Linked DNA regions of Homo sapiens. The protein of the gene in region 3 purifies or fractionates together with the protein of the main gene of each other region. This does not show direct contact. Each region holds a gene or a part of one and is shown on either strand. Other genes may lie near its edges.

Region 1 (3,572 bases), on a different chromosome or scaffold from region 3:
CTGGGCAACATAGTGAGACCCCGTCTCTACAAAAAATCATTTGCTGGGCATGGTGGCACACTCTAGTCCCAGCTACTCGGGAAACTGAGGCAGGAGGACCCCTTGAGCCCAGGAGGTTGAGGCTGCAGTGAGCCGTGTTCACACCACTGTACTCCAGCCTGGGTGACAAAGTGAAAACCTGCCACTCAAAAAAAAAAAACTTTAAAAAAATTAATATGGAGATTTTCAACATGATTAATAAGAGATTGTAAATTAGATACTATCCATTTGGCAAAAAAATTAAGTTTGATAGCACCAATATTGGCAGCATGTGGGAAATCAGTACTCATTCATTACCAGTAGGAGTGAAACTGGTTTAACCTCCACAGAGAAATTTAGCAATCGCTATCAAAATCTTAAATGGATGTAAACTGTTATTCAACAACTATACTTCCACAATGTCAACAAAATTAAAAAAGGATTTAACCCCAGGACACATTATTAAATAAAAAAATACAAAGTTCAGAATAGTGAGTATAATATAATATACTACCGGCTGGGCGCAGTGGCTCACGCCTGTAATCCTAGCACTTTGGGAGGCCGAGGCGGGTGGATCACGAGGTCAGGAGGTCAAGACCAGCCTGGCCAAGATGGTGAAGCCCCGTCTCTACTAAAAAAAATACAAAAATTAGCCGGGCGTGGTGGTGGGCGCTTGTAATCCCAGCTACTCGGGAGGCTGAGGCAGAGAATTGCTTGAACCCAGGAGGCGGAGGCTGCAGTGAGCAGAGATCGCGCCATTGCACTCCAGCCTGGGCAACAAAAGCGAAACTCCGTCTCAAAAAAAAAAAAGAAACAATCGTTATCTATAGGGTGGGGAAGTAGGGGGCTACAGGCCAGATGAGAAAAACTCACTTTTCATTGGATACTCTTTTGTGCCTTCTGAATTTTGTACCATGTGCTGTACTAACATTCAAAAATAAATAAATGAGCTTATTCTTACTTACCTTCATGAGGCTTTCTGAGCAACCAAGTGACTTGAGAAATAAAGTAAGCCTAGTAAATTTTTCCCCTACTCAAATAGTTTCAAATTCTTTTTTGCTGCCAACTATCTTTAATAGAGATAATAACCAGTCATCTAAGCTGATTTTTCTTTTGGTCAAATCACCAATGTAGAACTGGCCAGTCCAGAAACAGCTCTACATGCTCAAACATAGGGGCTGGATCCTAACCCCTCAGGCCCTAGAACCAGGATGGGGAGGCCGCATTAAGCTGGATGCATGTCCTAAATCAAGAATCACTCACCCGGTCATAGGTGTCCCCCTCCAGTTCTCCCCATTTCCTGCCATCCCATGAGGTAACTCGAACTTGATTTCCATCCCTGATCTCTTCAGGCACATAGCTGTGAAGGATCTTCTGTAGTCTGGCTATTCGGGACGGGGAGAGATCATTGGCAGCAAGATTGCCTATGGAAATAAAGATACTTCAGAGGCCATGACCCAATGAAACATTCCACCAGCAATGGCGCTGATGGAGTCAGACCAATTCTCAGGTAGTCCCAGCCAATGCAAACCCCAGCATCAGGAACATTTATTATGTGCATGGCACAGCATCAGTCATTCTGAGTGGGGGTACAATGGCAAACACCTAAATGGGCCAGAAAGTATCAAAGTTATTTAAGTCAATGAATAAAGCAGACCAAGTAAGACTCCTTTCCTTTCTCCTTTCCTGTCCTCTCTCCCCTTTCTCCCCTTTCTTTCCCCTTTCCCCTTTTCCTTTCCCCATTACTTTCGCCTTTCTTCTCTCCTTTCCCTCTCCCCTTTCCTCCCTTTCCTTTCTCTCCTTTTCTTTCTCTCCCTCTCTTTCCTTTTGTTTTTTTTTTAAGACAGAGTCTCATTCTGTCGCCCAGGCTGGAGTTCAGTGGCACACTCTCAGCTCACTGCAACCTCCACCTCCTGGGTTCAAGTGATTATCATGCCTTAGCCTCCTGAGTAGCTGGGACTATGGGTGTGCACCACTATACCCGGCTAATTTTTGCATTTTTAGTAGAGACAGCATTTCACCATGTTGGCCAGGCTGGTCTTGAACTCCTGACCTCAGGTGATCCCGCCTGCCTTGGCCTCCCAAAGTGCTAGGATTACAGGTGTGAGCCACTGCACCCAGCCACATTCTTTTTTTTTTTTTTTAAAGACAGGGTCTCTGAGTCTGGGCATAGTGGCTCACGCCTCTCATCCCAGCACTTTGGGAGGACGCCAAAGTAGGTGGATTGCTTCAGCCCAGGAGTTCAAGACCAGCCTGGGCAACATAGCGATACCTCATTTCTACAAAAATAAAAATATATTTAAATAATTTTTTAAAAAGAGACTGGAAGGCCAGGCACGGTGGCTCACACCTGTAATCCCAGCACTTTGGGAGGACAAGGCAGGCGGATCACAAGGTCAGGAGATCGAGACCATCCTGGCTAACATGGTGAAACCCCGTCTCTACTAAAAATACAAAAAATTAGCCGGGCATGGGGGTGGGTACCTGTAGTCCCAGCTACTCGGGAGGCTGAGGCAGGGGAAAGGCGTGAACCCGGGAGGCAGAGCTTGCAGTGAGCCGAGATGGCGCCACTGCATTCCAGCCTGGGCGACAGAGCAAGGCTCCATCTCAAAAAAAAAAAAAAAAAAAAAAAGAGACTGGGTCTCACTATGTTGCCCAGGTAGGTCTTGAATTCCTGGCCTCAAGCAATTCTCCCACCTCAGCCTCCCAAAGTGCTGGGATGATGGGTGTGGGCCACCATGCCCAGCCAAGAATATTTATTTCTAAAAAAATATGCTCTCCCACTATTCTGGAAACCTATGGCTCTCTTCATCTTTGGTAGATACTACAGTTTATTTAGCCAAAATCATTCTCCTCTTCCTCCTTATTAATAGAACCCCAATTTTTTGGAAGGGGAAAATTGCCCCAAAAGACTACATTTCTCAACCTTTCTTTAGTTTCGCTCTTGTTGCCCAGGCTAGAGTGCAATGGCGCGATCTCGGCTTACCATAACCTCCGCCTCCCGGGTTCAAGCGATTCTCCTGCCTCAGCCTCCCGAGTAGCTGGGATTACAGGCATGCGCCACCACGCCGGCAAATTTTGTATTTTTAGTAGAGACGGGGTTTCTCCATGTTGGTCAGGCTGGTCTTGAACTCCCGACCTCAGGTGATCTGCCTGCGTCGGCCTCCCAAAGTGCTGGGATTACAGGTGTGAGCCACCACACCCGGCTAAGCCTTTCTTTTACAACTAAGTATGACTATATGACTAACTTTTGGTCATAGTTGTAGGCATAAGTATTGGATAGGAATTCTGGGAAGATATTTTTAAAAGGCTGACATAATTGGGAGATGAAATGAGTCTCTTTTGCCCAATCCTTTCCTCTTGACTCAAATATGGATGTGATGGCTGGACTTCCAGCAGTCATTCTGGACCATGAGGCCTTGCCTTAGAGCTTTACTAGTTACATATCTTCTCCCTCTTAAAGGGAGGGAGGCTAAGGCTGACACTAGCAACAAAATACGTTGCAAAAGGAAAAAGGGAGCTTAAGTCCCTGATAATTGTGGAGCCTCCATACC
Region 2 (3,572 bases), on a different chromosome or scaffold from region 3:
TAGCTAACGAATACTCAGGAACTGGCTTTAAATCCAATATATACAGCCATGTCCTGCATGCTTTGGTACTAATCTTCTCCATTTTCACTTACAGTATGCAATCATCCTTTTGTTTTGTAGAATTGTGTTAAATTGCCTTTTCAAATCTGAATAGTCAAAAATCTATCTTTTTACAAGTGAAACTTAGGTTTGACAGATTCAAATTCTAAACCCACCTGTCCTCAGTGTTTCTTTTGCCTTTTCCAAAACACCACTAACCTTCATCAGGTTAGGTATGTATTAGCATCTGATGAGCAGCTCAATACAGATCAGAGTTATACTGGACACAGATAAATGCCCAGGCAATGACTATAGTCTCCAATCTTACTGAAGACTTTGTGCTACCCTGTGACAGTGCCTGGGTGTGGCAAATGAAAAGTATTAAATAAATGCTCTGTAGACTACTAATATAAATCCTCCTCTACCAGATATATGAAAAAGAACAATATGCCAATAGAATTAAAGCTTCATGAAGGAAGGAAAAAACTGCTCTGTCTTATTCATAGATATATGCCTAGCACCTAGTATACAGCCTGGCACATAGTAGATGCTCATTAAACTTCTGCTGAATAAATGAATGAACACGAGAGCAATCTCTACTACTGGTTATTCTATACTCATTGTATTCATATATTCATCAGGACAGTGTAAGAGTAAAGGGAAATGGCCAAACACTAATTCTTCACAATACTGGGATTCAGTTAAATTTAATTCATCTTATAGGTGGGTAATGATTCATAGACCTTGAAGTTCTCAAAATACAGAAAGTTAAAAAAAAAAAAAAAAAGAAAGAAAGATGCCTGGAATAAATAATATTCTAGTTATTGCTTAGTTGACTCATAGTGACATGCTTCCAACCTGGGCATCAAACAAGACACTTTAGAATAGACATCAAATCCTGATCCTCATGGCCTTAGGTTTTTATTTAGAAGGGGAGTTAGGCTGAAGTAATTCTACAAAGCCAGTTTCAGTTTGTGGTAGAATTTCTTGGGAAATGTTTTCAAGATAGTTTTTCCTTTAGAGGAATAACAAAAGTATTAGTTCATGAAGCACACAGAACATAGAAAATGCATAGAAAGAACATTCTTCATTCTCTTTACTTGCTAAATAAAGCCAAGCCCAAAGCAATGCAATCTATTTGATGTGTTAGTAATTTATTTTTAGATCCTAGAGTCAATGTTGGCCTTGCTGCCTTTACAACCAAGGAGTCCTTATGAAAAAGAAATAGTAATTTGGCTATAGTGTTGAAATCAGCTTTTTGTTCAAATGTATACACTATAGTAGGGTTTAGAGTGTGGGCTCTGGAGATAGATCTAGATTCAAATCTAAGCTCAGATTTCATTGTTTTTATTAGCTGACAAATATCCTACTCACTTCTAATCTTTGAAAAAGTATGTAAAATAAGTGTGGATTAACAACAACTCTGCTACCAGCAATTTCACCGCTAGGTATATAGAAACATTCTGCGTAAAAATGTTCCCAGCAGCATTTATAGAAAGCTCTTACCTAACATATAATGAACACTCTTATGTCAGCTATCAAAATTATTATTAATTAGCAAAAATTAGAAACAATGGCCATCATCAAATGGTTAAACTGTGATAGTCATAAAATACTACATATGAATTACAAATGAATATACCAGAGTTAAATGAATCCATAGCTGAATCTCAAAAATGTTAAAGAAAAAGTTGTAGAATAACTATATTATATATATACTATATAACATAATAGAATACTATGAATTGCTCAGGAATATAAACATGCAGTAAGAATATATGTGGATTATGGGGTGGGAGAAAGTGGGGTGCCATAAGGGGCTTCAGTGGAATGAGTAATTATCATTTTTTAAAAATGGGAGATAGGGTCATGGGGGTTCATGATATTATTCTTTGTAACTGTCTTAAATATTGCCTAATTAAAAAATTTTTTTTTATTTCTATTTTTTTTAGAGACAGGGTTTCACCATGTTGCCCAGGCTAGTCTTGAACTCCTGGGCTCAAGTGATCCATCCGCCTCAACCTCCTAAAGTCCCGGGATTACACGCGTCATCTACTGTGCCTGGCTACTCCCAATATTTTCTTGAAACAAGTGGATGACTTACAGAGAGCATAAGCTTCAAAGATAAGAATGTATTTTCCATACATTTAATATGGTAATACACTAGTTTCCCAAAAAAGTACCAAAATTAAAGATAGCTTTGATAATTAATAACAAGGATACACAGTGCATTAGATACCCTCTAATACAATAAACACCAGAAAAGCAGTATGTATACCTGGCACCTGGGTAGATCCACAGGTCCATTTAGCAATTGAAAAACACAAGAAATACATGCCACACGGGCAAATCAGCCACCTTTTCCCTACACTGGCTGAATTAGACACTTATATTTTTGATACAAACTTATTCTGAAGTTCTAGCAGGTTTCTTCTGACACTGTAACAATCTTTGCCTAAGGATTCCAAATAAATGCTAGTCTCGAGAATTCAGAAGAATTTTAATAAGTCACTAAAAAATAAAACAATGAATGGCAAAACAAAACACCAAAAATTCACCAATAGACCAACTTACAGAAGTTATATATTTTAGTTTATTTTTTAATGCTTTAAAAACACAGTTAAGGCATAGGAGACAGAATCTGGTAGTACCTATACCTGTCGCGTCTTCCATCTCGGGTACTGCTATGACTGTAACTTGTACATAGTTTGCTGAAGGAAACTAGTTTCAGGTCAAGTTCATTTTCCAGCTGTCGAGCCTGTTTCCTGAGATCTTTAACAAAATTATAACAACAAATAATTAGACATAAAAAGTAGACACAAAAATCACAGCACCATTCTAAAGAAAACAAACTATGAAAATGATCATATACTGATCTTGTTACCCCCATAAAGAAAAGTGTTGGCTGGGCACGGTGGTGCACGCCTGTAATCCCACCACTTTGGGAGGCCAAGGTGGGCGGATCACCTGAGGTCGGGAGTTTGAGACCAGCCTGATCAACATGGAGAAACCCTATCTCTACTAAAAATAGAAAATTAGCCAGGTGTGGTGGCGCACGCCTGTAATCCCAGCTACTCGGAAGGCTGAGGCAGGAGAATCGCTTGAACGCAGGAGGCAGAGGTTGCGGTGAGCCAAGATTGCGCCATCGTACTCCAGCCTGGGTAACAAGAACAAAACTATGTCTCAAAAAAAGGAAAATAAAAGTCTTAAAAGAAGGAAACCAAGGACTTGCCCAGCAAAGCAGATTAGTCACTTATAAACTTCAGAGGGGGCAAGAAGGGAAATAGTAATGGTAGATGCAACTTCGCAGCTTTACTCCAAAGATGGCTAGAAAACAAATGTTGTTCTATCCTTCCTGAAACTATTTGTATAGCAATAACTAAAATTCTGCAATTCAGAGAAAAACAAGAAGATAATACAAATCACAAAGGAACTAAAAATATGGTTTATGACCAGCATTATCAACTTACCAGTTAATGTTATAAGAAAGAAGCCATTATTCTTTTGAAAGGGATTTTGCTTTTTATGTTCCA
Region 3 (3,572 bases):
CAGGGGCCTGTGGAACCATAATAAATGATCTATCATGCATGTCATCAAAGTTCCAGAAAAAGAGACTGAAAAAGTACTTGAAATATGGCTGAAAGTTTCCCAAATTTGGCAGAAGACATAAATTTACAGATTCAAGAACTTGAGCAAACCCCAAAGAAGAAAAGCTCAAAGAAATCTACACCAAGCCATGGCATAGTCAAACTTCAGCAAAGTAAAGACAAAAAAATCCTGAAGGCAACTAGAGAGAAATGACACATTAATTATGGGAACAACAATATGAATGCCAACGGATTTTGTATCTGAAAGCATGGGGGTCAGAAGGAGGTGACACGACAGTTTTCAAGTGCTGAAAGAAAATATCTGCCAATCCAGATTTTTCTTTTTTTTTTTTTTTGGACAGAGTCTCACTGTCACCCAGGCTGGAGTGCAGTGGCGTGATCTTGGCTCACTGCAACCTCCGCCTCCTGGGTTCAGATGATTCTCATTCCTTGGTCTTCCAAGTAGCTGGATTACAGGTGCCCGTCACCACACCCAGCTAATTTTTGTATTTTTAGTAGAGATGGGGTTTCGCCACGTTGGCCAGGCTGGTCTTGAACTCCTGACCTCAAGTGATCCACCTGCCTTGGCCTCCCAAAGTGCTGGGATCACAGGAGTGAGCCACAGTGCCCAGCCTCGATCCAGATTTCTATATCCCATGATAATATCCTTCAGGAATGAAGGTGAAATAAAGACATTTTCACATGAAAGAAAACTAAGATAATTTTTGCCAACAGAACTTTTATAAAAGAACTGCTAAAGTTCTTCCCCAGAGAAAGGAAATGACAAAAGGAGGCTTGAAATATCACAAATGAAGAAAGAACAACGGAAAGGTAAAATATGAGTAAATTTAATAAACTATTCTCTTGAGTTTTTAAAATTATTTTTGATGGTTGAGGCAAAGTAACATTGTATGATGTGGTTCTCAATATATGTAGAGAAAATTTTTAAGAGACTATTTAAGGGGCAGGATAAAGGAACCTAAATGGAGATTAGTTTTCTACATTTCATTGGAGGTAGTAAGATGTTGACACCAGTAGGCTGTGATAAGTTACACATGTATAATTCAAGGAAACCACTAAAATAAACATACAAAGAGATACCCTCAAAAACACTACAGATAAAATGAAATTCTAAAAAATGTTGAAGTAACTCAAAGGAAGACAGGAAAAGGAAAACAAAGGAATAAAAACAGAGGGAACAAACAAATCAAATTGAAGTCCTAAAATATCAATAATTAGATTAAGTATAAATGGTTTAAATACATAAACTAAAAGAGATTGGCAAAATGGATTTAAAAACATTACCATTAATTTCTAATATAATGAGATGGGCTGAAAGTAAAAGGCTGAAAAGGATACACCATACAAACATTAATCAAAAGAAAGGAAGAGTAGCTATATTAATATTAGATAAAATAGACTTCAGAGCAAAGAAAATTACCAGGGACAAAGAAGAATGTTACATAAGGTTTAAAAGGTCAATCCAAAAACAAGTTATAGCAATCCTAAATATGTACAGAGCAAATAGCAGAGCTTCAAATTTCCTGAGGCAAAAACTGAAAGAACAGAAAGAAGAAATGGACGAGTCTATAGTTGAAAACTTCAACACCATTCTTTCAACAAATGATGGACTCACTAGACAGAGAGTCAGTAAGGATACAGAAGGACTGAACAGTACCATCAACCAACAGAATTGAACTGACATTTATAGAACATTCCACCTATTAACAGAATACACATTATTTTTAGGTATACATGGAACATTCACAACATGAACCTATCCTGGTCCACAAAACAAATCTGAACAAATGTTTAAAAATTGAAATAATAATAATAAATTAAATAACCATAGTGTAATCAAACTAGAAGTCAATAACAGAAAGATAGCAGGAAATTATCCAGAAATTTTAAAATTAAAGAACATACTTAAATATAATTCATTGAAAATAAAACTATATTGAATGAAAATGCAACATCAAAATTTGTGAAGCTAAGAGGAAAATGTGTAACACTAGATACATACATGAGAAAAAAAGATCTCAAATCAATAATCTATGTACTTACCTCAAGAAACTAGATGATTAAAAAAACCCAAAACAAGCAGAAGTAAGGAAATAATTAAGATAAAAGGAGAAATCAGTAAAACTGAAAACAAAAACAATCAAAATACAATGAAACAAAAAGCTGGTACTTTGAAAAGATCAAAAAACCTCTATCAGCCAGGTACAGTGGCTCATGCCTGTAATCCCAGCACTTTGGAAGGCCAAGGCGGGTGGATCACTTGAGGCCAGGAGTTCGAGACCAGCCTGGCCAACATGGCAAAACCCTGTCTCTACAAAAAATACAAAAATTAGCCGGGTGTGGTGACGAGCACTTGTAGTCCCAGCTACTCAGGAGGCTGAGGCAGGAGAATTGCTCGAACCCAGAAGGCGGGTGAGCTGAGATTGCATCACTGTACTCCAGCCTGGGCAATGGGAGTGAGACCCTGTCTCAAAACAAAACAAAACAAAAAACAAAAACAAACAAAAACAGAAAACAAACAAAAAACTTCTATCAAGACTGACAACAGAAAAAGAGAAGACAAACATTACCAGTATCAGCAATGAAACAGGGGTTTTCATTACAGACACCACAGACATTAAAAGGCAAAAGAAAAAAAAATTACTAAAAACAACTCTACATCCATTAATTTGACAATTTAGATGAAATGGACCAATTCCTCAAAAAGCACAAACTACTATAACTCACCCAATATGAAATAGATAATTTGAAAAGTCCTGTAACTACTAAAAAATTGAATTAATAGTTAAAAGGCTCTTGAAAAAGAAATCTCATTCACGTCCTTTGCTGGGACATGGATGAAGCTGGAAACCATCATCCTCAGCAAACTAACACAGGAACAGAAAACCAAACAGCAAATGTTCTCACTCATAAGTGGGAGCTGAACAATGAGAACAGATGGACATAGGGAGGGGAACGTCACATACTGGGGCCTGTCAGGGGGTGTGGGGCAATGGGAGGGAGAGCATTAGGACAAATATCTAATGCACGCGGGGCTTAAAACCTAGATGATGGCTTGATAGGTGCAGCAAACCACCATGGCACATGTATACCTATGTAACAAACCTGCATGTTCAGCACATATATCCCAGAACTTAAAGTAAAATAAAATAAAAAAGAGATTTTTTTTAAAAAAAGAAATCTCGGCCAGGCGCGGTGGCTCACGCCTGTAATCTCAGCACTTTGGGAGGCTGAGGCGGGCAGATCACTTGAGGTTAGGAGTTCCAGACCAGCCTGGCCAACATGGTGAAACCCTGTTTCTACTAAAAATACAAAAACTAGCTGGGTGTGATGGCGCACCCCTGTAATCCCAGCTACTGGGGAGGCTGAGGCAGGAGAATCGCTTGAACCCAGGAGGCAGCGGTTGCAGCGAGCCGAGATCGCACCACTGCACTCCAACCTGCGCGACAGAGTGAGACTCCATCTGAAAAAAATAAAATAAAAATAAAATGAAATATAGTGACAATACCAAAT
Region 4 (2,812 bases), on a different chromosome or scaffold from region 3:
GCGCCATTGCACTCCAGCCTGGGCAACAAGTATAAAACACCATCTCAAAAAAAAAAAAAAAATTTGGTTCTTTATAGAATATGCTGTATTAGTCAGGGTACTGGCAGGAAACATTCAAGTGGGTAACTGCGAGTCTACCTAGTGAGGCATTCTGGGCCAGCAACAGTGAGGTGTGATGACCAGCTGTAGGTCTGAAGGGACAAATGAAGAGTTGCTGGAACCCGGCTCTCTCTGAGCGCTTTCCAATAGAAGTGGTGGGTTTTGGTTACAGCCACCCACAGCCCAACCAGAAGGGAGCCGGGGAACCACTCCCTCTCCTCTTGCCCTCTGTGTTCTACTGCTGCTTCCCACTGGCTGAACCTACCTAGCTGCTGGGAGCCAGGGAACCCTGACCTAGTCCAGAGGTGAGTCTTTTGGGCATGCACAGAGCAGGGTGGAGATGGACAGATGATGAGGGCAGAGTGGGTCTGGAGGGGCCCAGGGAAGCTCTCCAGGAAGGCTATGAAAGCTGGTCCCAGCAGCCCAAGCTCATGATCTCCTAAGTCATTCACAGAAGTGCATGTCACACCATGATTCTTCTCTTGGTTTTATTGTTTGGTAGAAAAACAGGCTCTTTAACACTGAATAAACATCTCACGAACTGTCGCTCCTAGATTACAAAAAGTCAAAACCAATTTCCTTTGACGCCGGGCCCTTGAATCTGACATTCAAGTCACCGTAATAGAAACCAGAGCTGCTGAACCTTACATTCTGGAAGGTGCTTGAACAAAGGCATGTTAAGGACCGTTTAAAACTTCTAGCATGTAAGAAGATCCATCTTTCCTTCCAACGCCTTTGGATAATAACAGCAGAATCCCGGAGATCTGCTGCTGAGTTTGAGAAGGCCAAGTTTAAGGATTCCAAACTCCAGCCTTCAATATTTCTGCAGAAACTTAGAGAAGTAACCTCCCCGTCCTCTCCGCTGGCTTCCCCAAGTACAGATGCAGGATGCAGGTCTTTCTTCCTGCTACCCAGGCACCGAGGACTCAAACCATCTCACCGTCTCATCACTGGGCTTCTTCAATGGGCTCTTGGAGGAAGAAGCTTTTCGTTTTTGCCAATCTTCAGTCCTTAGAAAAGTCCTTTTTGTTAAGAAAAGGCAGGGAGGGTTAACTAAGTTCTAAGAATTCAATAAGAAAAGGAAAGAGGTACCTTTTATGAAAAGGACTTCCAAGCTCTCTCAGCCAGCAATTTAACTCAAATAACTTTCCTGAGCATCTCCACACGGAACATTCAGCACTTCTCTCCTAGCAGCCAGAGGATGGGATCTGTGTACACTGAGTGTCACTTAAAACACCCTCATTAGATGCAGTAAAAAGTTACGCTTTACTCCCGTAAGTCAAATCCACATGGCTCTGGGCTGTGCCCTGCAGAATTAGCTGTAGGAGTAACAGTAAAGGTCCTGCCCGACAGCCATGAGCAGCCCCGGCGCGCCCCGGGAGCCCCCCAGCCGCGACGAGAAGGCCACACTGGGAATGTCGGCCTTGGAGGCAGGGTACGGGGAGGGTATGGTTCTCAGTAGGCGGGCATCGTGGAGGCTCCAGATTCTCGTGTAGCAGTCCTGGCCCACTAGGAAAGAGGAGAGACACATGGCAGGCTAGTGAGAGAATGCAAAGGAAAACTTACCTACATGTGGACATGGCTTCCCAAGATTCCTCAGGGCTGTGATTTCATGTGAGCCAAAACACAAACTCATTAACGGACAGTATTTCTACGGATAACCCAAGTCGCCCTGTTGTGCTAGAACAATGACAAGATGCCCTGGTTGGCTGTGTGATGCCATGAATGGCTCGGAGACATCCTGGCTAATGTCTGGGTATTCTGCTGCTCTTGATGTCACGGAACGTTCAAGTGCGAGTGTGGCCCACCTGGTCTAGGTGACATGCAACTGATTTCCCCCATTTTTTAGGGACAGGGTCTTGCTCTGTCGCCCGGGCTGGAGTGCAGTGGTGTGATCAGGGCTCACTGCAGCCTTGAACTCCTGGGCCCAAGCCATCCTTCTGCCTCAGCCTCCTGAGTTAACTGGGACTACAAGTGTGTGCCGCCATGCCTAATTTTTTTTTTTTTTGAGATAGGGTCTTGCTGTGTTGCCCCAGCTGGTCTTAAACTCCTGGCCTCAAGCTCCCTAAGTGCTGGAATTATAGCTACCACACCTGGCCTGATCTTTTCATGTTATAGTAAAAGATCTGTCAAAGTCATTACATCCTGGGGATGGGCTAGGTTGACAACTCTCCCCACAGCTCTTTCTGGTTTAATGCTTCAGTTCCTAGGACCGGTTTAAGTCTTCAGGGCTCCAGTTCTGAGGACTGTGACACACAACAGCATGGGTTACAGCAGCCCAGAAACATGATATACACTACTGGAGACCTTCAGCAGGAGAAGAGGACAGGCCTTGGGCAGTCATGGATTTCACATTTGTGATTCTGATCACTTGTGTGGCTCTAAGACCAGAAGTGCTATCTTGGCTGAAGCTGAATCCCGGCTGCAGTTTATTACTGCAGCTGGTAACTACCTGCATCTGCCTCTCAGCAAGGCTGAGCTCTCTCTATCATCCAGCTCACAAGAGCTCTTCTGTGATAAAAACAGGTGAAAAATCGACTTAAAAAGGAGGCGAAGTCCTGGTGTTGATGAGAATAGTAAATAAGTCTATGAATGTCCTAACAAAGTAATGCTTCCTAGCCACAAAAATGTTCCATGGGGTATAAGCCCTTTCTATAGGAATACCAGTAGAGGTGACAATTCTTGAAGACTGAGAACACATTCTGCAGTGTCA

Evidence for each region.
Region 1: the proteins of CHST7 (region 3) and NSUN4 purify together in Homo sapiens (affinity purification with mass spectrometry; one large-scale study listed by BioGRID and IntAct). This does not show direct contact.
Region 2: the proteins of CHST7 (region 3) and GOSR1 purify together in Homo sapiens (affinity purification with mass spectrometry; one large-scale study listed by BioGRID and IntAct). This does not show direct contact.
Region 4: the proteins of CHST7 (region 3) and DCAF4 purify together in Homo sapiens (co-immunoprecipitation; one large-scale study listed by IntAct). This does not show direct contact.

What each region holds. Positions count from the first base shown.
Region 1 is NC_000001.11:46,350,738-46,354,309, reverse strand, and holds part of NSUN4 (5-cytosine rRNA methyltransferase NSUN4), read right to left. Parts: intron 1,443-3,572; coding exon 1,282-1,442; intron 1-1,281. UniProt on the Homo sapiens protein: Mitochondrial RNA cytosine C(5)-methyltransferase that methylates cytosine to 5-methylcytosine (m5C) in various RNAs, such as rRNAs, mRNAs and some long non-coding RNAs (lncRNAs).
Region 2 is NC_000017.11:30,480,382-30,483,953, reverse strand, and holds part of GOSR1 (Golgi SNAP receptor complex member 1), read right to left. Parts: intron 2,812-3,572; coding exon 2,697-2,811; coding exon of another isoform or gene 2,691-2,696; intron 1-2,690. UniProt on the Homo sapiens protein: Involved in transport from the ER to the Golgi apparatus as well as in intra-Golgi transport. It belongs to a super-family of proteins called t-SNAREs or soluble NSF (N-ethylmaleimide-sensitive factor) attachment protein receptor.
Region 3 is NC_000023.11:46,591,346-46,594,917, reverse strand, and holds part of CHST7 (carbohydrate sulfotransferase 7), read right to left. Parts: intron 1-3,572.
Region 4 is NC_000014.9:72,957,408-72,960,219, reverse strand, and holds the end of DCAF4 (DDB1- and CUL4-associated factor 4), read right to left. Parts: intron 1,609-2,812; coding exon 1,415-1,608; 3' UTR 517-1,414; downstream 1-516. UniProt on the Homo sapiens protein: May function as a substrate receptor for CUL4-DDB1 E3 ubiquitin-protein ligase complex.